Linked DNA regions of Homo sapiens. The protein of the gene in region 1 interacts with the protein of each later gene in a biochemical or structural test. Each region holds a gene or a part of one and is shown in the gene's direction. Other genes may lie near its edges. The genes, in order: PKM, DDX39B, PIN1, MYL2, PRKN, KDM8 and OGT.

Region 1 (3,500 bases):
GTGTTTCACCATATTAGCCAGGCTGGTCTCGAACTCTTAGCCTCAAGTGATCTGCCCGCCTCAGCCTTTCAAACTGTTGGGATTACAGGCGTGAGCCAACACAGCCAGCCATGGCTCAGTGTTAATGGTCAGTTCTGGGTGGTAGAGAGGCAGATGTTAAAACTTTTTTTTCTTTAATTCGTAACATAGAAGCAAACCTATAAAGGCTGCCGTAGGAAGACCAGTCATAGTAACTAGTTCAGTGCTCTTGGAGAGTTGGCACTGCCTTTCCTCCTTTATCCCCCCGACTAGAATGCAGGGCAGCCCTTCCAGTAAATGTTGAGCCAGTGCCTCACTTTGCTGAGGCCATCACCCACCTTAGTTGCACTTAAGAGGACCCTAAATCAGGGTCCCAGGTCCCTTGCTGATTTTAGAGTGTGGATATCATACCCAGAAACACCGCCCTACTTTTAATCCTAGTAAGGAGGCACCATGTCCCAGGACAACTAATGCTTCCCCCAAACCACCTCCTTCAGGCTGAAACCAGTTCTCTGCACTGAGCAGCTGGGATGGAACCAGGAAATCCTCGGCATCTGAGGACATTGAGGGGTCTCTGACTTAGGGCTTCTTCACCTGAAGTTGAGTGGTCTTTGAGGGAAGTAGGCCCATTTAGCATCAGCTGCTCTTCCCTATTCCACACTCTAGTTGGAAATAGGACCTTAGGTTCCTGTTGACAAGTCATTTACTTTCAGCCCCGAAGAAATAAAAGAGCCAAGATTTTTTTTTTTTTTTTAAAGCCAGGGAATTTTACTAGAACCTACAAGTGGGCTCATTTTGTTCTGTGTAGCCTGGTAACACCATACTGCTTTCTGCTGTGGGGCCTCCTGGGGTTAAAGTGTGGGCTTAAGACCCAGGTCTCTTAGCTAGAAGATATCTTATCCTCTGTATCCTGCACCCATATGCAAATACATTATTGTCATTACCCTTAACTATAGATGAAGATGAACAGTGCCTATTCCAGACCTTACTAGGTTCTGCTGGCCCGTCACCCATTTTGATCATGTTGCTGGCCTAGTTTGATTAGGGCAAATCTTAGAAACTCCATTTCCATTGTTGAGGAAGAGAACTAGAGAGCAGGCTGACCTGAATGCCAGCGTATCATGATGCAGACTTTCTAACGGATGCAGGTGTTCGGAAGAGTTGTGGATCGAAACGCCTTCATGATGGCTTGGAGGTGTAGGTAGCAAACTGACGTCACAGGAAGGAACACAATCTTGGGTACCTACTGGCAACGTTGGAGGGAGAAAGTGAGCATCAGGTGCCATCATTTTATAGTTGATCTATGTGATGAGGTTGGTATCGGAGCATAATTGGTACAAAGGAAAAATGACTTAGGCAGATGCAGACTCACGGGCCAGGCTATTTTATTAGGGCAGAATGATTTGGTCCTTTGTGGAAGAATTGGTGGAGTGAAGCGTGAATCTTTCCCAGCACAACCCAACAACAGTCCTGGCCCTAAGAAGTGGAGCATGGGAGTTGGGTGTGGTTCGTGCCTGTAGTCCCAGCTACTTGGGATGCTGAGGCTGGAGGATCGTTTGAGGGTGCAGTGAGCTATAATATAATATAATCACACCACTGCACTCCAGCCTGGGTGACAGAGTGAAACCCTGTCTGAAAAAAAAAAAAAAGAAAAAAAAAAAGTTGGAGGGAGGAGTGTTGGGTATTTTTTATGATTTTTGTCTCCTGGTTTCTGAAGAATGGCCAAAAAATTGTGTCTGACACAAAGGAAACTAATATAAAAAGCCAGGAGCTGTCTGAGATGAGAAAGGAAAGGGAGAATAGGGCACTTGGAGCTGAGCTGTGATTGTGCCTGTTCCAACCTGTCACTCCAGACTAAGGCCTCTTAGAGATGGTGTCTCCTTTCTCACAGAGGAGACATGGCTCTGAGGAAGATCTTACTGCAGGGGCTCGGGCTCAAGAATAAGGCTCCTGGACCTGGGCATGGTGTGTGCTGCTATCAGTGGATACGCCAGGCTTCCACTGCTGGCTGGAGGTTGGCTCTGCATGTCTGTGCCTTCCTAGGAGGAGGATGCAATAGTGAGTCAGACTGGCATGGGTGGGGCCACATGTCCTGGCAGGCACTGTCCAGGCAGCTGGCATGAGGGAGAGGAGTCTTTCCCAGAAGTCCGCCCTGAGAAACCAAGGCTGGGCTGCTCTCCTGGAGCCAGGGGAGTCCAGTGAGTGTTTTACATACAACTCTAGGTACGTGGTTGGTGGGATGGGCAGTTTGTGCTGGGAAGAGGCTTGTGGAGGATTTTGGAGAAGGCAGGAGAGCTCTGGCCCTCCCTGCAAGGGAGGCTTCAGGTCAGAGCCTGAGGAAAGACCTGGGCATGAGATATGAGGTCTCTGGCTGGGTAGAGAGCATGAAGGACACATGAGATCTGGAGTCTGGATGAACTTGCTGACAAGCAAGCTTTTTTTGACTGCTAATGCGTAAATCCACTATAGAAATTTTCATTTGTCATTTTTGTACTTATTGGCAAAAAATTAGAGCTTATAGGCATCAGATTTAATTTGAGATAGTTGAAATAGGGTTTGTGTTTGAGGCCAATATAATTTTATCTGCTAATGGCATCTCGTGGACTTGGAGGCAGCCCTTCTGTACCAGAACATTGTCAAAAGCTTTTACTGTAAAGCTTGAGAACAAACTAGTTTGCTGGATTTGGGCATGTAACTAACAGGTTTGAGGCATGGGATTATCCTGTGGACTTTTTTTTTTTTTTTTTTGCTTTGAGGTTCTGAATGTATTAAGGTTGACCTTCTTAAGCCGTTGAAACTGTTCTGCAGTACATTTGTGATGTAGGGCCTAAGACTTGTATCGTTTTTTTTTTTTAATCACAACCCAGTGTACAGAACTTGAGACATGCGTCTTTTCTCTGCCACCTTTTAAAAGCAGATTATTCTTGAAGTGCATAGAGCAGCAATTGATTAATGGAATTGGTGTCTTCACATTTCATTTACTTCCTCCCAACAATTTTATAGGATGCATATAAATATTTCCAAAAGAGGTACACATAATTTCTTACTATAAAAGTATTTTTATATTTATATCAGTAAATTTGTTAATAAAGAGGATTTTTTTTTTTCTGTAATCCTACCACCCCAATGACGTCCTATTAAAATTTCAGTATATATCCTCCCAGGTCTTTTAGGTATGTTTAATTTGGTGTCCCTTCCCCGCTCCCAAAAGGGGAGGGACCAGGTTCTTGTATAGAATAGTGGAATGTTAGTAAATCACAGGTTTAAAGAGACATAACAGTGGAATCTCTAGAGCAGCTGTCACCTGGATACCTGGTTATTAAGGTAATTTTTCCATTACCCCAAAGAGCTTTAGTTACACTCAGCTTTTTCCTTAATCCTTGTGCAGCTCTCCAGGGCACACCGTATTCAGCTCTGAGCGGTCTTTGCTAGTGAGGCCAAGGAGCCACCCTGAGCCAAAAGGGGAGCATTATGTCACCGGA
Region 2 (3,500 bases), on another chromosome or scaffold:
TCTGTCGCAAGCGTGGGGTTCATGATTTAGATCACATAATTGAAGTCATTTATTATCGGCCCAGGTGTGTTTTTGTGACAGTCACTTCCCTAGAGGGGATAATGAAGAGCTACATTTACCATATGTCTCCGTCTACTTCCTGCCTAAGGTGTCTGTACTGGTGATGTGTCACACTCGGGAGTTGGCTTTTCAGATCAGCAAGGAATATGAGCGCTTCTCTAAATACATGCCCAATGTCAAGGTAAGCCAAGGTAAAGAGACCTGAGAGTGAGGGTGTGGCAAGTTGGAGGGATAAGAAACTTGTAGGCCAATAGTCTCTTTAATTTTGGAGAAGCTTTAGTTTGCTGTGGTGTAACAGAGTGTTGAGTTCCTATGTAACAGGAGGATTCGTAATTGGGCTATGGATGATGCTTAACACAAGACCACCCTTTTCTTACTACTTTATACTGACTTTGAATCATATCAGTTTAATAATTTTGGGGTATGTGGCAGAGAAAGCCGGAAACTTTAAAACAGCTCCAGTGGTGTGTGAATATTGAGGATTCTGGCCAAGTGCACAATGGCTTACACCTGTAATCTCAGCAGTTTGGGAGGCCAAGGCGTGTGGATTATTTGAGGTCAGGAGTTTAAGACCAATGTGGCCAACAGGATGAAACCCTCTCTCTACTAAAAATGCAAAAATTAGCCGTGCATGGTGGCACACACCTATAGTCCCACCTGCTTGGGAGGCTGAGGCAGGGGAATCGCTTGAACCCAGGAAGCAGAGGTTGTAGTGAGCTGGGATTGTGCCATTACACTCCAGCCTGGGTGGCAGAGTGAGACTCCCATCTCAAAAAAAAAGAAAAAATCTGATTGAAGTTAAGCATTTTTGGCAAGAATCCTTCATAGGTGATACTGTATCTCCTGTTATGCCACAAATCTGGTCGACTTATGTTAGTTATTTTATTTTATTTTTATTTATTTGTTTTGAGATGGAGTCTCGCTGTGTCCCTCAGGCTGTGAGTGTAGTGGCGCGATCTCAGCTCACTGCAACCTGCGCCTCCCACGTTCAAGCGATTCTCCCGCCTCAACCCCCCGAGTAGCTGGGACTACAGTGTGCCATCATGCCTGGCTAATTTTTGTTTTTTTTTAGTAGTGACAGGGTTTCGCCATGTTGGCCAGGCTGGTCTCGAACTCCTGACCTCAAGTGATCCACCCACCTCGGCCTCCCAAAGTGCTGGGATTACAGGAGTGAGCCACTGCACCTGGCCTCATTAATGATTTTAGATTTACCATAGGATTAGCGTCGTGACAGTCTGATTCCACAGTTGTTCTTTTCCCCCTTGAAACCAGAAAGTAGTTTCTGGTGTTATTTGATACTGTACCAAGGCCCAGATCCCCAAACAACTATTCACCTAATGGTTTTAACATGAAATGATAATATTTAGCCCGAAGCAGTAATTTCATGGGGTTTGTGTGAAAAGAGTTTGAGATTCTGGGTTTATTTAGGAAACCTTAATGTTCCATGTGTTTTTTGTGGTACTTTACACTAATCTGGTGATTTCTTGCTGTCCTTTATTTATTTATTTTTTATTTTTTGAGATGGAGTCTCGCTCTGTCATCCAGGCTGGAGTACAGTGGCTCAATCTCGCCTCACTGCAATCTCCACCTCCCGGGTTCAAGCGATTCTCCTGCCTCAGCCTCCCGGCTAAATTTTGTATTTTTTGTTTTTTAGTAGTAAATTTGTAAATTTTGTATTTTAGTAGAGATGGGGTTTCACCGTGTTGGCCAGGCTGGTCTTGAACTCCTGGCTTCAAGTGATCCACTTTCCTTGACCTCCCAAACTGCTGGGATTACAGGCGTGAGCCACTGGGCCTGGCTTTATTTTATTTTTATTTATTTTATTTCTTTTTGAGATGGAGTATCACTCTTGTTGCCCAGGCTGGAGTACAACGGTGGGATCTTGGCTCACCACAACCTCTGCCTCCCAGGTTCTCGTGCCTCAGCCTCCTGAGTAGCTGGAATTATAGGCGTGTGCCACCACACCTGGCTCCTTTATTTTTTAAATGAAGCCTGGCCTCATAAATGAAGGAAGTTGGTTAGATTAAGTCAGTAGAACTGAATTATTGTCCTGACTGCTCCGACTAGCCATGTAACTTTAGGCAATCACCCTCAGTGTTTGGTGGGGGGGACATAAAATTTTTAAATTAGGTGCCCTCTAAAGTTAGTTTTAGTTTGGAAACATGCTAAAAATTGGTTTAGCTCAAACAGAGTGGGAACCCTGGGGGGATTGGACTCTTTCCTTCCTCTGTTTTGAGACTCTTTGCTTCTGGCTCGGCAGGTTGCTGTTTTTTTTGGTGGTCTGTCTATCAAGAAGGATGAAGAGGTGCTGAAGAAGAACTGCCCGCATATCGTCGTGGGGACTCCAGGCCGTATCCTAGCCCTGGCTCGAAATAAGAGCCTCAACCTCAAACACATTAAACACTTTATTTTGGATGAATGTGATAAGATGCTTGAACAGCTCGGTGAGTGGCAGTGCTGGGGCTTGGCTAATGCTGGGGAGTTGTTCTTTGGAGCCAAATGATGTTTATTTGAAACAGGAGCACCTCAGTGCAAGGACGACTCTTATCTATCACCCATGACTGATGGCTCTGGGTTCCCTGGTTGGTCTTTATTATGCTTTTAAGCACAGTAAAGGGTGTCATCTATCATCTTTCTATGATTTTTGTTTTTAACCTTTGAGAATAGGGGACTTTGATAATTTTAGGCATAAGTCATCACCACCACCACCGTTTTCATTATAGATTCATATACTGGGAGTCATAGCGGAGATTCTAAACTGAAAGAGAAGACAGTACCCTTCTGGCATCTCCAGCACAGCATTTACAGTCAGAATTTATAGCTGAATAAGTGTCTAGACTCAGGTCTGGGATTAATGTAGAGAGTGTTTGTAGCAGTTTGTGTGATGTGGTATTCTAGTGTGCCAGGTGGGGTTAATGGAAGATTTTTCTGTAAGAATTGAATCTTGGTGAATGAGAGTGGGGTTGGACATAGGCCCCATAAGTCATTACAAATGATCTTTGGCAATTCTATATGGTGAGCTATAAAGGTGGGCTCCAGGTAGGGATGTCATATTTGCCTGACTTGATAGAAAAGTAATCCAGAGAGTCATAGATGGACTCTGATATCTGGAATATAATATGTGCTTGATATTTGTAGTCTGCTGAAGGCTGGCTGGGGCTTGGGCAGGAAAGGGTTGGGAGAAGGTCCCATAAAGCATGTTTTGAAGGCCTTGAGAGCCTCTGCACTGGGCTTTATCCCCATTTCATAGTTGGGAACTTTGGGGTTTTACCTTATTTCTTGCTTGGTTAAAACAAACAGCTGGAATCTGATCCCACTTCTTGATTCCAAGTCCATTGCTCTTTCCATTGTGTTGTTACTATTTCCAGCAATCTTCACCTCACTGGGAAGTCTACCTCTAATCTTTGTTTATCATACCTGCTTATTTTCTCCTACAATTT
Region 3 (3,500 bases), on another chromosome or scaffold:
TATAAGAGTGAGCAGGAGGGTGCAGGCATTTGGGGATGGAGCGGCATGAAGTGGGCTCCTGGGGGTCAGCAGAGCAGCCAGGCGCAGGACAGAGCTGCTCCAAGCAATCCTGATGAGAGCTGGCAGAAGGCTGAGGTCGGTGGGGATAGTGAGGAGGGCATGGGTCTGGGTGTGGTGGGCGAGGGTGTCTCGCCCATCTCTGGGTTGGACAGGTGCACCTGGTAAGTAGCCAGGCCCTGAGGCGTCACCGTAGGTACCTGCAGATTCTGGAATGTCAGCAGGAGCCTTGCCTGCCCACCTGGTGGAAGCTGTGGGAGGAATTGGAGCAAGAGGCGGTGTGACTTGAACTTGGGGGCTGGAAGTGGAAGAAGAAGTGAGAGGGAGCAGACCCGAGAGAGATTCAGGAGGCAGGATAGAGAGGACTGGGTGATGGATTAGGTGGGCAAGGGTGGGATGTCTGGGGGAGGGTCAGGGCAGAACAGCGTGGCCCACCCTGGGCTCGTACAGGGCTGGATTTCAGTGCCAGCTGTGTGGTCTTCATTTCCTGAGCCTCAGTTGCCTCATCTGTAGAATGGGGAGAGGGTGGCTATGAGGATCCAGGAGCTATGGGCTCAGTGGCTGGCGTGCTCTGCACGGTGGAGCCTCAGCCCCAGTCATTGGGGTGTGGACGATGGGGGAGCTGAGGTCAAGTCAAGGCCTCTGCTCACGGGCAGCCCCTGCTGCCACCCCACAGCCCGTAGAAAGAGTTCCGGATAGGACCACAGGAGGCCTGGTGGGCTCAGCACACAGATGATGACCTTGGCACACGACCTCCCTCTCCTGGTATCCTCCTGCCTGAGACGGTGCTGGGGCAGATCTCCTCAGAGGTCGATAGGAGGATGCAGTGAGGTGGCCCCGGCCGAGGTACACTCGGTAACAGATCATCATGTGCAGTGTCGGCGCAGGCATTGGGCACCTGGGCCTCATTTTCTCTTCCATGAAGTGGATGTTCTCCCCTCGAGGGTTCATGCCGGGTGATCAGGAGACCATGATTTGGGCAGCTCACTCCCCAGCTGGCAGCCGGGCTAAATCTCATCAGTGCCCATTTAGATCTGGTGCTCCGCCCTTGCCCCGAAGGGACAGGCTGCCTGCAGAGAGAGCCGGGACCTCCACATTTTCTGCTGAGGCTCCTTTTCCCAGCATTGGCTCCTCTGCAGCTGCTGGGCCACAGCCAGAGGCTGTCAGAGATCCAAGGGAGTCATTGCCAGTGTCCTTGTCTAAGGAGGATGGGCCATGGAGAAGCCCTCCCTGCCCGCTCTCCACCCAGATCTGTTGACAGCCACCCCTCACATGCCCAGGGCCTGGAGGGTCCCAGCAAGGCTGAGACTATGAGCAGCTGTCCTACTCACATACCCATCCCAGCATCCAGGTCAGCCCCTTTGTCCTGGGGTCCTCAAGGTCACTGGCGCCCTTCCAGCCTGCTGGCCTTGGGCCAGCCTCTAGCCCCTCCTTCTGGATCTTGGTCTTCTCAGATCTGACCCTGTCACCTCTTTCCCCGACCAGGCCCCTTCCCCTCTGGTGCCTGGGCAGCCTGGGGGAAGTATGCTGGAAGCAGCGTAATGATCTGGCAAGGCAGAGGAGACAGCACGTCTTGAAACATTTTTGGGGTCAAGGACTACCCCATTTGTTCCCTCACTCCCACCTAGGTCACTGATGTGCATTAGCTTGGACTGTTGTAACAAAATATCACAGACAGTGTGGCTTAAACAACAGTCATCACTTTCCACAGTTCTGGAGGCCAGAAGTCCACAATCCAGGTTCCCTCAGATTCTGTTCCTGGCGAGAACCCACTTCCTGGCTTGTAGACGGCTGCCCTCTCACTGTGCACTCACATGGCATTCCCCAGGCGCATGTGCACGGAGTGAAGGAGCACGAGCTCTCTGGTGTCTCTTATAAGGACACTAATCCTGGCCAGGCGCAGTGGCTCATGCCTGTAATCCCAGCACTTTGGGAGACTGAGGTGGGTGGATCACCTGAGGTCAGGAATTCAAGACCAGCCTGGCCAACATGGTAAAACTCCATCTCTACTAAAAATACTAAAAAAAAAGCCAGATGTAGTGGCGCACACCTGTGATCCCAGCTACTCAGGAGGCTGAGGCAGGAGGATCGCTGGAACCTGGGAGGCAGAGGTCACAGTGAGCCGAGATTGTACCACTGCACTCCAGCCTGGGTGACAGAGCCAGATTCTGCCTCAAAAAAAAAAGGGGCGCTAATCCTGTTGGATCAGGGCCCCACCCTTATGACCTCATTTAACCCTAGTTACTTCCCCAAAGTCCCCATCTCCAGATGCAGCCACACTGGAGGTTAGGGCTTTAACACATGAATTTGGGGTGACACAAACATTGAGTCCATAACGGATGGGCAGCTTGGATCTGTCAGGGGCCTGCTCTGCAACAGCCACTGCTTAAGCGGTCACTGATTCACTCCTTGGAACAGGCTCCAACGTGGGAGCAGCGGTTACCCCATTTTACAGGCCAGTTGAGTGAGGCTCCAAGAGGTAAAGTCACCTGCCAGACTCTCATTGTTCAGGAGCAGCAGAGGTAGGATCTGGACCTGATGGAGTCTGGAGTCAGCACCCATAACATGTCCTCCTGGACCTTGGGGATACACTGTGAGCAGGCTGGCTGGGGTCTGCCAGCACAGATAGGTGCCATTCTGTTTTGCATACTATTTCAGGGGGTCCTGAACACCTTGAAGCAGGTGGAGGCCCCTGCTCCAGACTGGGAGCTCCTGGAGAGGCCACCCTGTGTCTGTGTGGTTCTAAGCTGGAGCCACATCGAATCAGGATGGGGCTCCAGCACCCGACAGTCCCCATCAAATTTCACAGGTTTTGGCGCCGTCGGGCAAGGCTGACACATTGTCTTGGAGGAGGCCCAGGAAGTCTGGCCTTAGGGTCGCAGCCTGAGTTTCAGGCAGATAGGGCATGAGATTCCAGCATTTCTGCTTCGAGCCCCGTGGTAGATCCCTGTCTCCCTCCTTCCCCATGGCCTATTTCTGTCTCATTTATTCATTAACTTCTTGAACATTCGTGAACACCTGTTTTGTGCACAGTGCTGGGTTCTGAGGGTGCAGCAATGAAGAAGGCCAACCCAGCAGCCTCCATTCCTGCACTGTGAGGCGGGCAAGCAACACACCAATGGGACGGTAGTAAATGCAGCACCCAGGGGGAGGCACCTAACACAGTGGGGGATTAGGGGAGGCTTCTTGGGGAGACCAGAGGATAGCTGATGAGTTTCAGGCAGGACAAGAGGCTTAAACCAAGGTCTGCGAGGTGGGAGTCGGAGGATGTCATTGTCGCGGGGTCAGGTACAGGCTGAGCTAACAAGACACACAGGACCAAACCCCTCAAGGTCAGCCTCACAGAGCAGGAACTCAGGAAGAAAGCGTTTTTGTTTGTTTGTTTGTTTGTTTGTTTGTTTGTTTGAAATGGAGTTTCGCTCTTGTTGCCCACGCTGGAGTGC
Region 4 (3,500 bases), on another chromosome or scaffold:
GGTGTGGGTAAGGGATGCAAAGAACTCAAAACATGTAGCCAGGATTCCCCATTTGGTCTGTTTGTTTGTTTGTTTGTTTGTTTGTTTGTCTGAGTAAATGGGATTACAGGTACTCACCACCATGCCTGGCTAATTTTTTTGTATTTTTACTAGAGACAGGGTTTCACTGTGTTGGCCCGGCTGGTCTCAAACTCCTGGCCTCAAGTGATCCCTCCGCCTCGGCCTCCAAAGTGCTGGGATTACAGGCGTGAGCCACTGCACCTGGCCTAAAGCTATTATTTTTTAAAAAGCTAAAAACTGGTGTCTCATCTGGCCTCTCCACTCCCTAGCCTGCCCTATCTATAAAATGGGACCAGTAATCTATCTCAGCTGACAGTCAGGGAGATTCTCAGAACTTTATAAATGCCCAAGTGTTTTACAAATGAGGAATCACGGGCCAGGCACAGTGGCTCACACCTGCAATCACAGCACTTTGGGAGGCTAAGGTGGGCAGATCACTTGAGGTCAGGAGGTTGAGACCAGCCTGGCCAACGTGGTGAAACCCTGACTCTACTAAAGAAAAATAAGCTGGGCATTGGTGATGCGCGTCTATACTCCCAGCTACTCGGGAGGCTGAGGCAGGAGAATCGCTTGAACCCGGGAGGCGGAGGTTACAGTGAGCCGAGATTGCACCACTGCACTGCGGCCTGGGTGACATAGCAAGACTCTTTCTCAAAAATAAATAAATAAATAAATAAATAGCTTTATAGAGTTATAATTTGCATACCATAAAATTCACCCTTGAAGTGTGCAGTTTTGTGGTTTGCAGTATACTCACAAAGTTGTGCAACCATCACCACTATCTAATTTCAGAATATTTCCATCACCCCCGAAAGAAACCCCATACCCATTAGCAGTCACTTCCTGCTCCTCCCTCTCCCACCAGCCCCTGGCAACTGCTAATCCATTTTCTGTCTCCATGAATTTCCTGTTCTGGACATTTCATAGAAATTGAATCATACAATATGTGGTATTTGTGTCTGGCTTCTTTCACTGATGTTTTAAGGCTCATCCATGTTGTAACCTTTGTAGGAATTTCCCTCCTTTTTATGGCTGAATAATATTCCATTGTATGGACAGACCACATTTGGTTTATCCATTCATCAGTTGATGGACATGTAGGTTATTTTCAGTTTTGGGCTACTGTGAACGATGCTGCTATACACATTTGTGTTCAGGTTTTTTTGTTTTTGTTTTTGTTTTCCGAGATGGAGTCTTGCTCTGTCATCCAGGTTGGAATGCAGTGGCATGATCTCAGCTCACTGCAAGCTCTGCCTCCTGGGTTCAAGCAATTCTCCTACCTCGGCCTCCCAAGTAGCTAGGATTACAGGCATGCGCCACCACGCCTGGCTAATTTTTGTATTTTTAATAGAGACGGAGTTTCACCATGTTGGCCAGGCTGGTCTTGAATTCCTGACCTCAAGTAACCCACGGGCCTAGGCCTCCCAAAGTGCTGGGATTACAGGCGTGAGCCACTGTGCCCAGCCTTGTGTACAGGCTTTTATGTGGACATGTTTTCAATTCTCTTGGGTATATATCTAGCAGTGGAATGTCTGGGTCATATGATAACACGAGGCCTGACGTTTTGAAGAAACTGTTGGATTATCTTCAATTGTTGACTTTTAATCTGAGGTCCTACAATGATCTTTGAAGATCCCAGAATCCACTCCTGCCAAGTCCTTGGCCCAATCTCTTGGGCAACTCTGCCAGTTTCTCCCAGGCTGAGCTGCCAATCACTTCCCTTCCACAGGCCTTCACTATCATGGACCAGAACAGGGATGGCTTCATTGACAAGAACGATCTGAGAGACACCTTTGCTGCCCTTGGTATGTCACCCTCTCTAGCCCTGCATGAGGGTCTCTTTATCTCACATCCATGAGGAGCAGGAGGTGGGACCATCAGAAAAGCTCAAGATGGTGTCATTTCCCAAAGAAACAACTCTGCCACAACTGGTCTTTAAGACAAATTTCAGGGGATGGGAAAGAAGTGTTTAGTCTTTGAGTACCTTCAGATATCTTTTTTTTCTCTTGAAATAACTTTTTTGTGTGATTTTGAATGCAATGTCAGCTCACAACAGAAAATGGGGAAAAAATGCAGAAAAGTATAAAGGAGAAAATGACATCACCCAGAAGGTCATATTCCACTGTGAACATTCCAGTCCCTCCTCTAAGTCTTTCTAGACATGTCTGTTAGGTTTGGGTTTTAGTTTTTTAAATTATTGGAATCATTCTCTTTCGAATTTATCTTCTAAAATGTATCATCTCAACAGTGTGAGCATGAGTACATGGAGTTTCTTCAAAATATACATGCCCAATCTGCTACCCGCCACCACCACTTACTCCTGACCTTAGAACTCAGGGCAACCATACACAGCTGTGCAGACTGCGCACTGCACAATTCTACAGGGAAGTATTCACATTTGTAGTGAGTGTAGCTTTTTATACTTAAAACATACATTGGCTTAAAAAATGACAGATTTTTCTTATTTGCACAAAGTTAGGCTTGTGGCAGGACTAGAGCAGGTAAATCAGAACCTCCACGGCTGTGGGTTACAGCAGGTTTAACTTGTAAAAGTTCCCTCAGGTGATCCTGATCTGTCTCTCCCGCCTCCAACTGTGAAGGGCTAATTTACAACATGAGCCTTTCCCATTTGAGTGAAAAATGAAAATATCTGCATCAAATGTTCCAGGTTCTGAAGACACTATTTTAAATATAATGAACTGGCCGGCATGGTGGCTCACACCTGTAATCCCAGCACTTTGGGAGGCGTAGGCTGGAGGACCACTTGAACCCAGGACTTCGAGACCTGCCTGGGCAACATGGCAAAACCCTGTCTGTCCAAAAAACTACAAAAATTAGCCAGGCATGGTGGCATGCACCTGCAATCCCAGCTACTTGGGAGGCTGAGGCACGAGAATCGCTTGAACCTGGGAGGCGGAGGTTACAGTGAGTCGAGATTGTACCACTACACTCCAGCCTGGGTGACACAGCCAGACCCTGTCTCAAAGAAAAATAAATAAATAACGAACACCTTCCCACATCAGATGTTAGGGTCGCTTCCAGTCATTTGGTTATTATAAATAACACTGTCAAGAACATCTTCTCAGAAAAGATCTTTGCCTCCATCCACCCCATCTCTGATGATTTCTAGACTAGATTTCTTGAAGTGGAATCCCAGGAGCCAATGGCAGTGTCATAATGGTTCTTTCTCCCCAGCTCGGAGTCCCTGAGTGTGTGTTTCCTACCCTAGGGCGAGTGAACGTGAAAAATGAAGAAATTGATGAAATGATCAAGGAGGCTCCGGGTCCAATTAACTTTACTGTGTTCCTCACAATGTTTGGGGAGAAACTTAAGGGTAAGGTCGTGTGTGTGTGTGTGTGTCTGTGTGTATGTGTCTATGTTTCTTCGGGGGGGCTGGCAGAAGATGGTTAACTTTAAAAGAGATAAAGCACCATTGGAAA
Region 5 (3,500 bases), on another chromosome or scaffold:
TCATTGTACTTCTTAGATAAAACAGAATACTTGAAATCACTAGTTACGGAGAACAAGCGTTTATAAACTCACTCCATAAAACAAAGGAAAGAAGTCCAGATAATGTTTAATAGAGGACAGTCTTCGACTGAGAATGGCAGGGTAATTGTGCAGTAGGAGATGGCTTTTCTCAGGGTGTTGACATTGATTTGATATGTCATTACATCATCTCTGATTAAAGGCCATATTTCTTTTTAAAAAGTTCTTATTTTTGTAGAATAGATTAATGTCTCTTATTGACAGGTGTTTTATTTCATGTTACTAAAGCTTTATTTGTATTCCAAAAATAGTTTGTATCTCCTTCTTTGATATGTGGAACATGATGCTTAGGGTTCTATTTATAGTTTCTTCTCTGTGTGGAGAGAACAATGTCATCAGAGCTGTGGATATCGTGTCACCCAGAATAGTGCAGAATAGTTTCTTCCTCTTAGATATCTGCATGACTCATATACCTAGGCACATATTAAGACCATCTATGGGCCGGGCGCGGTGGCTCACGCCTGTAATCCCAGCACCTTGGGAGGCCGAGGCGGGTGGATCATGAGGTCAGGAGATCGAGACCATCCTGGCTAACAAGGTGAAACCCCGTCTCTACTAAAAATACAAAAAATTAGCCGGGCGCGGTGGCGGGCGCCTGTAGTCCCAGCTACTCGGGAGGCTGAGGCAGGAGAATGGCGTGAACCCGGGAAGCGGAGCTTGCAGTGAGCCGAGATTGCGCCACTGCAGTCCGCAGTCCGGCCTGGGCGACAGAGCGAGACTCCGTCTCAAAAAAAAAAAAAAAAAAAAAAAGACCATCTATGGACAGATGTGTGTATTTTTAAGAGTATTGATGGCTTCTTGATGATTCTCTCCAATTTACTTTTACTGTAAGACCTGAACAGAGGCCCCCATAAAGTTTCACATGAGAGCCCTTAACTTTGGAGGAGAGAATGTTCAATAGTTAGCAGCCTCACCCATTTTGCACATCTCTACTCCTACCCTCATCAAATGAGGGGGAAAATTGGTGATTAGGGAGTTAATATTGGTGTCCTGATTGAGACTTTTTATTATTTATTTACATAATTGTTGAATACGCCAGTTACTCCTATTGTGAGATATTTTTGGAGTTTCAGTGCATAAATAAGATCTTGTGATGAAGCCCTCTGTAACTGCGTAGTCATTTTTAAAGCTTATTGTACCCGCAGAGTAGATCCATTTTCCAGATCATGAAATGATAGGAAGTAGACACCTGAAACTTGCTCGTATTAATAAAATGGAGAAATAGGAAGGAACATTTGTAATATCTGTGTTTCTGAGGTCAACCTTTAGTTTTTTTTTTTTTTTTTTTTTTTTTGACATCTACCTGCACTCCCTCTTTTCTGTCCCCTCATTTTTTTCTTACCCACATTCCTTGATTTTCTCAGAAGCTGGAATTTAATATTTCATTCTTCAGCTCAAAGGAGCAGCTGTTGTCTGAACAACAGGTGAATTTCTTCCTTACTTGTTGCCACAGGGCTTGACTGTGGGTTGTAATGTTTCTGAGGGTTATCACAGGAGTGGCCTGACCGGAACAGACCAGGCTTCACCACAGCTCCTACTGGAGACATTCCCTAGATTGGGAATTGTCTGCAATGGAAATCTTTGTAGTCTCTGGCTCTGCATTTTCCTTCCAGGCAAATCCAGTCCTGATTACAATTTTTTTTTTCCATTGAAACAAAATTGAGGAATGATGAACTCTGGGCAGCTAGAGGATGGGGGCAAGTTAGGTTTGCTCCTTGGAGAATTAGACAGATTTAAGAATAATATTCCCTGTGCCCTGGGTCTTCTCTCCACCCTTGAAATTCGACCTCCTTTCTCCTGAAAGTCCTTTATAGCTCTCTGGTGAGTTCCCAGAGTGTGAGAGGTACAGATTTAAGCACAAGTGAGGTCATGTTCTCTGAGGTGCTGCTTCTCTGGGCTCCTGACCACAGACAAATGTAGACTGCATGATCCAGTTGATATTCACCAAATTTGTATAATTACATGTGACAATATATAAAGACGTTTTTACATGAATATGTCTGAATTCATAGGATCAGATGGGAAGTATATGTGTTTTATTGGGCAGTCAATTTAGACATAATCATATGATACAGAGAGTGATATTTCGTAGAGATCTGTTGTGGGCTTTCCACTCTTGTTCATTTAGGAATCTGTGAGATGCTCAACCTATGATTGGAATTGGAATTTCTTCCTTTTGTCCCTCTCTAGAGTTTTCTCCATTATTCATTGTCCCTTTCTCGTGTGTGTGTGTGTGTATGTGTGTGTGGCATCTGCCGTGTCTCACTACATGCAGAGCTTCTGACATAGGTATTGACTTTTATATCATCTTGATTTCAAAGAAGTCACCAAATAATCTTATTCTCAGTGTCTTGAGTTTTATACCAAGTCTCTGTGCTTGTTTTTTATGTTCTGGCAATTTCTGGGCATTGTTGCCCATTTTAGAACTCTATTTTGTTTTGTGGGGGACAGTTCTGGAATAAATTTTTTTTTTTTTGAGACGGAGTCTTGCTGTGTTGCCCAGGCTGGAGTGCAGTGGCGTGATCGCGGCTCACTGTAAGCTCCGCCTCCCAGGTTCACGCCATTCTCCTGCCTCAGCCTCCCGAGTAGCTGGGACTACAGGCGCCTGCCACCATGCCCAGCTAATTTTTTTTGTATTTTTAGTATAGACGGGGTATCACCGTGTTAGTCAGGATGGTCTCGATCTCCTGACCTCGTGATCCACCTGTCTCGGCCTCCCAAAGTGCTGAGATTACAGGCATGAGCCACCGCGCCTGGCCTCTGGAATAATTTTTAATGGAGATTCAACATCTAAGAAACTTTCATATTGGATCAAGACATAGTTGTCACAATTCTTAGTGTGTAAATTCATTAAAAGTCCCTTCTGGCTTTTGCAGCCAATTTAATCATCTTATGCTTAATAGAATGCAAGTTATACAGGTAAAGTCAGTCAGAGAGGGGATGGGGATGCTATTTGAGATGAAGTTCCTAGAAGTAATAAGATTTTTTTTGTCTTAAAACAGTGATGATAGGATGATTAAGTGATCTAAGATGGACAAATATGTGTGAGTTCTTAATAATTGGGAAAGATCTTTTTTAAAAAGTGTTAATGTGACCATTTAGTTACCATAACTGGAAACTAGATAGCATTAGGGGCCATTTGTATATGTAAAAATATCAGGAAGTATACCGGCAAATTATATCTTTGGGTTGTGGGATGTTTTCTTTTATTATGATTGTGTTTTTCAGATCTTCAGCGTTAAGCGTATAATGTTTTGGAAATACTGAAAAGCAATGTGTTATAAACACAATCTTCAGGACAAATGCATTGTGGTAATACATTTAAAACGGATTCTACTTTTGTGTCAAATTATGTCAGATAAATTTTCAATGGTAGCATACTATGCTCATGTTCTGGTCATAAAAGTAGTGTTTTCAGGAAA
Region 6 (3,500 bases), on another chromosome or scaffold:
ACCTCAAATGTCGACTTCCTGAGGTGGTTGCTATTTTGTTCTGTTTTGATTTTAAACAGAAAGCAAGGGCGGACCATGGTTTGATTCCAGATGTGAAGTTAGAAAAAACAGTCCCCCGGCTGCACCGTCCGTCCCTCCAGCATTTCAGGGAGCAGTTTTTGGTTCCAGGGAGGCCCGTGATCCTGAAAGGCGTGGCTGACCACTGGCCGTGCATGCAGAAGTGGAGGTGGGTGGTCGCTGAGGGAGGTGAGGTCCCTTTTCCCATTTTAGCGTTCCCCAGGGCTCCCTGAATTCCTCCCGACCATCCCCAGGGAAATGCAACCTTGTAGATGCTTCACTAGCAGCCCTTGACTGATTGCCAAGGGGTTAAAAAAGAGTGAAAAGTAAGGTGCTCTGAATTTATGCCGCAGGTTATGGGATTCTTACCTTCTACCTTGCTCGCCTTAAGCGGTTTTTTAATGAGTCCCTAAGTGGCAGTCCTAGAATGTTTCTGTTATGCAATTTTACAGGATCCTAGCAATTTCAGACCATCTCAGGGCCCTGAAGCTAAGAGCAGAAATAACCCAAGAGACAGCCCCTCTCTCTCTGAGGGATTCTGTGGTCTCTTGTGTTTGTTTCTAGTCCTTTCTCAGAATCATGATGGGGAGATCAGATCAGGCAGCTGGAGCGTGGCTGTCATGCCGCGGCTCTGCATGAGTTTGGAAATAAGGAGGCATCTCTCCAGGAAGGTAGATGGAGTCCGCCTGTTTTGTGGTTTCGCGGAGGGAATGGTACCCGCTGACACATGTGGAGGAATTCTCATTGCAGGAGCTCTCCTCACAGCAAGGCTTCATTAAGCATTTTACTACGTACCTGGCACTAGGACAGGTGTTGTCATCACCCCCATTCTGTAAATGGGGATCAAGGACTCGGGTTCAGTAACCTGCCTCAGATCCCCTGGCCTGTAACTGATGAGGCCTGGAATCAGTCCCAGGCTAGAGGGCAGAGTCCAGGAGACTGCCACCTGCCACGCTGTCCGCTATTTGTTCAAAGGTTTCTCAGCTTAGTGACAAAATGAGCAAAGAAAGAAGTGAGGAGGCTGTTGGCAAGCAGGGAACTAGAGCAGCCCAGCCAACCAGACTTACCGGCCCTGTCTGCAAAGCTGCACAGCACTGTGTATGAGCCACACAGCCTTGAGCAGGGAGCCCCACCTCTCCATGCCGGTTCCTCATCAGTGAAGCTGGGGATGACAGTCCTTGTCTCTGCACGTGAGGTTTTCCGAGGATGAAAGGGGACCACATGCAAAGCACACTTAGTACTATGCCCAACAGATATTAGCAGTGACGATGCCAATGTGTGTCTTTCTGCTAGTTTGGAGTATATCCAGGAGATCGCTGGCTGCCGAACTGTCCCAGTGGAAGTTGGTTCGAGGTACACAGATGAGGAATGGTCCCAGACCCTCATGACGGTCAACGAGTTCATCAGCAAATACATCGTGAATGAGGTACATCATGGGGACTGCTTTCCCCTAGTACTTGCAAGGCAGAGAGCATAGTACATTTAGGCAAATAACCCCCCATGTGTTGTAATGGGAGGTTTTGGAGGAGCCAGGCTGTAAGTCTGTGGTCGGAGGGACGACCGCAGCGAGGAAGGCAGGCTGCTTAGCCAGCAGACATGAGGGATTCATGTCAGGTCCTTTTTAATGGGCAGGGGAGTATAATTCAGTGGGTTTTAGCCTGTTCCAAAAGTTGGACAGCTAAGTCTAGAGTATGTGTATTTAAATTTTTAATAGCAGCCAGGCATGGTGGCTCACACCTGTAATCCCAGCACTTTGGGAGGCTGAGGCAGGCGGATCACTTGAAACCAGGAGTTCAAGACCAGCCTGGGAAACATAGTGAAACCCTGTCTCTATAAAAAATATAAAAATTAGCTGGGTATAGTGGTACGTGCCTGTAATCCCAGCTACTCAAGAGGCTGAGGTGGGGCAAATTGCTTGAGCCCAGGAGGCAGAGGTTGCAGTGAGCCAAGATCAGGCCACTGCATTCCAGCTTGGACAATAGAACCAGGCCCTGTCAAAATTACGACAGGACAGGATAGGACAATTTATTTTTCCCAAAAGTTAGATCACTTATACTTTCACCAGCAATTAACACAAGTGTCCATTTTCTTACATCTTTGCCTGCACTGTTTGTTGCCATTTTATGAAAATGTTTGCCAATCAGATGGATGAGATCAGTGCTTTACAAACTGGGTACCCCGGTGCTGGAGAGGTTCTTTGAAGCTGCCCCAGGGCCTCTAAGGGTTGGAGAGGACCACTCAGGATGGAGTGGAAGGGTGACGGGTGCTGCAGCTGGGGCCAGCTGGACAGCAGCAGCAGGAGGGCATCTGTCATGACTAACTGGGCTTTCTGTGTTGCCTCTGGTTTTCCCCGGTGGATTAGCCAAGGGACGTCGGGTACCTTGCTCAGCACCAGCTCTTTGACCAGGTAAGTCTGAGGCCACGCACCTCTGCCCCTCACCGTCTCACCTTCCCCTCTCCTCCCCTCCTGGGCTCAGTGCGGCTGGAGCAGTGAGCGTGAGTAGGAGGGAGGCAGCAGGTGAGGCTAGGAAGGTGACAGGACGTGGGTGATGAGGAGCCATTTTCCTAAAGTGACAGGAAACACTGGGGGGTCGCCAGTGCCCCGAGGATTGTAGGGGCTGCTATTCAGAGATGAAGGGAGCAGCTGTCGGAGCGGGTGGCTGGCTGGGCTATTGCTGTGGTGCAAGGAGAGGTGATGCTGGCAGGTGGAGCAGTTCAAGACCGGTGTGAACCACCGAGCCCTGGACGTGGGTGGATGTGTGGGGGAGGGAGGGAAGATCGGGGAAGATGCCCAGATTCAGGACCCCAAAACACTAAATAGATGGAGCTGGGGCGCCCAGGAGGGACCTGGCTGGTGTGGTGTCTGCCAGGAGTGCCCAGGAAGGCAGCCCTTGGCAGGATTCAAGGATAGGGCCAGGTGCGTGTCCCGAACGTGGAAGACTCGAGTCAGTCAGGGTCAGGGCTACAGCCAGGGGTGGGCTGGGGCCGCACCTCTGTAGCCTTTGCAGTGGGGCCCTGGGATGCTGATCAGCTGCTGTATCTACTGCTGAAGCCAGGACTGCTTCTCTGTCTCGATGGGGGACCCAGGGCCAGTAGGGGCTGTGCCAGGAGCCTTCATGCCGACATTAAAGGACGCTGGCGGTTTCTCTTCCCCAGGCCTCCCTATTAGGACCTGTGCATCCTGCGTCCTGTCCATGTCACTTGCTAAGTGAAGGAAAGGGGGATTCTAATTGATCAGGTCCCTACTGTGTGATCCCGAGACCCACCTTTCTCCTGACCCTGGTCATCCTGGGGGCATGGCCTCAGTGTGGGCTGGGGACCCTGGAAGCCATGGTTAACCTTGGCTCCCTGTCCTGGAGCAGCTGTTTCATACTTTGTAGGACAGGAGGAGTTATATTTAGGAGTAGAAGGCCAAGTTCACAGTGACTTTCAAGATGAGCCAG
Region 7 (3,500 bases), on another chromosome or scaffold:
GTATATATATATGAATCACTGAAGTCCTAGCAGAAAGGTTTTGAGACTTCTCATTTAATAAATAGTATGTACTAACAAATTTTGCAGTATAGCTGTTGCTTCAAAAGTATACCTGGCCATTTTTGATACACAGTTGGACTCTTTGTGACCAAGAAGCATACCTCTTTCTACCTCTGAGACCTTTAGGGACTCACTGCTGATTGATTGCAGTCTAAACTCTTCAGCATAGCTTTTGTAACCTTTCTCTGTTTGCCACAACTTTGTCAATACTTTAACTCACCATTCAACATCTTGTATACCCTATACTAAATAGAAGTGAATTACTCACCCTTTTTTTTTTTGAGATGGAGTTTTGCTCTTGTCGCCCAGGGTGGAATGCAGTGGCACGATCTCGGCTCACTGCAATCTTTGCCTCCCAGGTTCAAGCGATTCTCTTGCCTCAGCCTCCCGAGTAGCTGGGATTACAGGCGCCTGCCACCACACCCGGCTAATTTTTGTATTTTTAGTAGAGACGGGGTCTCACCACATTGGCCAGGCTGGTCTCGAACTCCTGACCTCAGGTGATCCACCTGCCTCGGCCTCCCAAAGGGCTGGGATTACAGATGTGAGCCACCATGCCCGGCCTACTCACCATTTTCTAAACTCCCTCACACTTTACTCTAGTTCTTCATTCATACTGTTCTCTACTGAGATTGTATTCTGTTAAACTCCTTCAAACTCCTATTCGTCTTTGAAGACCTATTTTCAAATACCAATTCTAGGCTGGGTGCTGTGGCTCACGTGTATAATCCTTTGGGAGGCTGAGGTGGAAGGATTGCTTGAGACCATCATGGGCAACATAGTGAGACCCCATCCCTACCAAAAAAAAAAAAAAGATTACAAATTTCAAATACCAATTTCTCTGTGATATGTTGTTATTCATACATTCAATCCAGAAGTGAACTCTCCTTCCTTTGTGTTCTGTTTCTTTAATGCTTTGGGCCCATTTTAATGACAGTCAACCATATTTGTGCCCGAATTAATGTAGTTAATTTGTGTTCTTACCTCTTTTCCATCTGGGAATCTGAATTATGTTAAATGCCATTAAAACTAAATGCCATTAAAACTAAATGTCATTAAAACTAATTGATCTGAGATTATACATAGTGAGTTCTTATTTTGTATTCTGTAGATTCCATGCAATGGAAAAGCAGCTGATCGCATCCATCAGGATGGAATTCATATCCTTGTAAATATGAATGGCTATACTAAGGGCGCTCGAAATGAGCTTTTTGCTCTCAGGCCAGCTCCTATTCAGGTAAACAAATTAACAGTCATCACTTATAACATGTATTTGGCTAAGAATACAGTGAGGTGCTGCTTTTCCTCCCTCTGGTTAACTGATATTTGAAACTGTAGGGCAGACATACTTTTAATTTTTTTAAGTTGTTGAAATGCACAGGACAAAAAGAGTGTAGAGCACAGTGCTTATAGGTACATGTATATAGAGACATGCAATTCATGGTTGGCTATGAACAGTTACTCTGTCTTGCAAATTTGAAGAACATTTTAGCATTTTGAAAGTTAGTCTGAAATACAGGCCGGGTATGGTGGCTCACGCCTGTAATCCCAGCACTTTGGGATGCTTAGGCAGGAGGATCTCTTGAAACCAGGAGTTTGAGTCCTGCCTGGGCAACAAAGCAAAACACCCTATCTCTACAAAAAATTAAAAAATTAGCCAGAGTGGTGGTGTGCCTCTGTGATCCCAGCTATTTGGGAGGCTAAGGTGGAAGGATTGCTTAAGCTTAGGAGTTTGAGGCTGCAGTGAACTATCACTATGCCACTGCACTCCAGCCCAGGTGACAGAGTAAGAGTCTCTCTTATAGAACTGCTTCATTGCTTTCGGCTAAAGAAGTCAGCCTTGCTGTGCGTGTGGCAAGTGCCTGTAATCCTGGCTACTCTGGAGGCTGAGGCAGAAGGATTGCTTGAGCCCAGGAGTTTGAGGCTGTAGTGATCTACGATTGCACCACTGTATTCCAGCCTAGGGAACAGAGTGAGATCCTGTCTCTAAAAAAGAGTTAGACCTCCTTGTTTATTTACTTATTTAATTTTGGCACCTTTAGGTTCTTTTTTTAAAAACCACTTTATTGAGGTACAGTTGACATACAAAAAGTTGTACATATTTAATGTATGTGACTTGATGAATTTAGAGGTAAGTGTACTGATAAAAGTTCTTAATCAGTTTTTGATCTGATTTTTTTAAGGCAATGTGGCTGGGATACCCTGGGACGAGTGGTGCGCTTTTCATGGATTATATTATCACTGATCAGGAAACTTCGCCAGCTGAAGTTGCTGAGCAGTATTCCGAGAAATTGGCTTATATGCCCCACACTTTTTTTATTGGTGATCATGCTAATATGTTCCCTCACCTGAAGGTAGGTATGAAACAGTGCTATGGACGAATTTCAAAGAACTGTAGCTTTTTATTTCCTTGCTATTGTCTATGTAAATCCTAAAAGACATGTCTGAAACTATTTTTTCCATTAGAAAAAAGCAGTCATCGATTTTAAGTCCAATGGGCACATTTATGACAATCGGATAGTTCTGAATGGCATCGACCTCAAAGCATTTCTTGATAGTCTACCAGATGTGAAAATTGTCAAGGTCAGAACCTAGTCAGTATTGTCATTGAAATAAAGTTAACTGCATTCACGATCTTTTCCCTAATGATGCATTTTTTTTTCAGATGAAGTGTCCTGATGGAGGAGACAATGCAGATAGCAGTAACACAGCTCTTAATATGCCTGTTATTCCTATGAATACTATTGCAGAAGCAGTTATTGAAATGATTAACCGAGGACAGATTCAAATAACAATTAATGGATTCAGTATTAGCAATGGACTGGCAACTACTCAGGTGAGAAGATAATAATACACCATTATATGTCCCGCCAAGTATGCATTTATTTCCCTTAACCTCATGATAACTCTAGGAGGCAAGTATCATTATCACCATTTTTATGGATGAGGAAATGAGTTTAGTGGAAACGTGCATCTTATATAGGTGTGTCTGATTTTAAAAGTCTCCTGGATTCAGCCAGCAGATTATTACTTACTGAGAAACTGCTGTGTTAATATCTTGTTATTCCCTGCCTGTGGCTTTACTCTCTTACATGATGAACTATGTGTAGATTCCATACAGTTTCTTGCTTCTGTAAACCCATCCTTTCCCTAGCTAAATCCTACTCAAACGTTCAGTTCAGACAGCTCTTCCAGGAATCCATTTCCGTACTTACCGCTAACGTCTCCATCCCTACTTCATTGGTACCTGTCTTTTATACCTCTGTAATGTTTGGAATATATCATTACATACAGCACAACAGATGATAATTCCCTGTGTTTGTATCCTCTACTGAATTGAATTACTGAGCCCATGTCTTAATCACAGTAATGTAGTATGTACTCAATAAATAATATATTGCATGCTTAAATAAGTAGCTCTATCAAGAGAGTGTAAGGCA

Evidence for each region.
Region 2: the proteins of PKM (region 1) and DDX39B form a complex in vitro, tested with the Homo sapiens proteins (one study listed by BioGRID).
Region 3: the proteins of PKM (region 1) and PIN1 form a complex in vitro, tested with the Homo sapiens proteins (2 studies listed by BioGRID, with this or other methods).
Region 4: the proteins of PKM (region 1) and MYL2 form a complex in vitro, tested with the Homo sapiens proteins (one study listed by BioGRID).
Region 5: the proteins of PKM (region 1) and PRKN form a complex in vitro, tested with the Homo sapiens proteins (one study listed by BioGRID).
Region 6: the proteins of PKM (region 1) and KDM8 form a complex in vitro, tested with the Homo sapiens proteins (one study listed by BioGRID).
Region 7: the proteins of PKM (region 1) and OGT form a complex in vitro, tested with the Homo sapiens proteins (one large-scale study listed by BioGRID).

What each region holds. Positions count from the first base shown.
Region 1 is NC_000015.10:72,221,191-72,224,690, reverse strand, and holds part of PKM (pyruvate kinase PKM), read left to right. Parts: intron 1-2,119; exon of another isoform or gene 2,120-2,137; coding exon of another isoform or gene 2,138-2,241; intron 2,242-3,406; coding exon of another isoform or gene 3,407-3,500. UniProt on the Homo sapiens protein: Catalyzes the final rate-limiting step of glycolysis by mediating the transfer of a phosphoryl group from phosphoenolpyruvate (PEP) to ADP, generating ATP.
Region 2 is NC_000006.12:31,535,504-31,539,003, reverse strand, and holds part of DDX39B (spliceosome RNA helicase DDX39B), read left to right. Parts: intron 1-148; coding exon 149-241; intron 242-2,320; coding exon 2,321-2,504; intron 2,505-2,554; exon of another isoform or gene 2,555-2,630; intron 2,631-3,500. UniProt on the Homo sapiens protein: Involved in nuclear export of spliced and unspliced mRNA. Component of the TREX complex which is thought to couple mRNA transcription, processing and nuclear export, and specifically associates with spliced mRNA and not with unspliced pre-mRNA.
Region 3 is NC_000019.10:9,841,818-9,845,317, forward strand, and holds part of PIN1 (peptidyl-prolyl cis-trans isomerase NIMA-interacting 1), read left to right. Parts: intron 1-3,500. UniProt on the Homo sapiens protein: Peptidyl-prolyl cis/trans isomerase (PPIase) that binds to and isomerizes specific phosphorylated Ser/Thr-Pro (pSer/Thr-Pro) motifs.
Region 4 is NC_000012.12:110,914,080-110,917,579, reverse strand, and holds part of MYL2 (myosin regulatory light chain 2, ventricular/cardiac muscle isoform), read left to right. Parts: intron 1-1,789; coding exon 1,790-1,865; intron 1,866-3,255; coding exon of another isoform or gene 3,256-3,289; coding exon 3,290-3,394; intron 3,395-3,500. UniProt on the Homo sapiens protein: Contractile protein that plays a role in heart development and function.
Region 5 is NC_000006.12:162,717,767-162,721,266, reverse strand, and holds part of PRKN (E3 ubiquitin-protein ligase parkin), read left to right. Parts: intron 1-3,500. UniProt on the Homo sapiens protein: Functions within a multiprotein E3 ubiquitin ligase complex, catalyzing the covalent attachment of ubiquitin moieties onto substrate proteins. Substrates include SYT11 and VDAC1.
Region 6 is NC_000016.10:27,213,526-27,217,025, forward strand, and holds part of KDM8 (bifunctional peptidase and arginyl-hydroxylase JMJD5), read left to right. Parts: intron 1-59; coding exon 60-226; intron 227-1,077; exon of another isoform or gene 1,078-1,247; intron 1,248-1,350; coding exon 1,351-1,483; intron 1,484-2,419; coding exon 2,420-2,464; intron 2,465-3,500. UniProt on the Homo sapiens protein: Bifunctional enzyme that acts both as an endopeptidase and 2-oxoglutarate-dependent monooxygenase.
Region 7 is NC_000023.11:71,560,604-71,564,103, forward strand, and holds part of OGT (UDP-N-acetylglucosamine--peptide N-acetylglucosaminyltransferase 110 kDa subunit), read left to right. Parts: intron 1-1,171; coding exon 1,172-1,297; intron 1,298-2,243; coding exon 2,244-2,414; intron 2,415-2,526; coding exon 2,527-2,643; intron 2,644-2,725; coding exon 2,726-2,896; intron 2,897-3,500. UniProt on the Homo sapiens protein: Catalyzes the transfer of a single N-acetylglucosamine from UDP-GlcNAc to a serine or threonine residue in cytoplasmic and nuclear proteins resulting in their modification with a beta-linked N-acetylglucosamine (O-GlcNAc).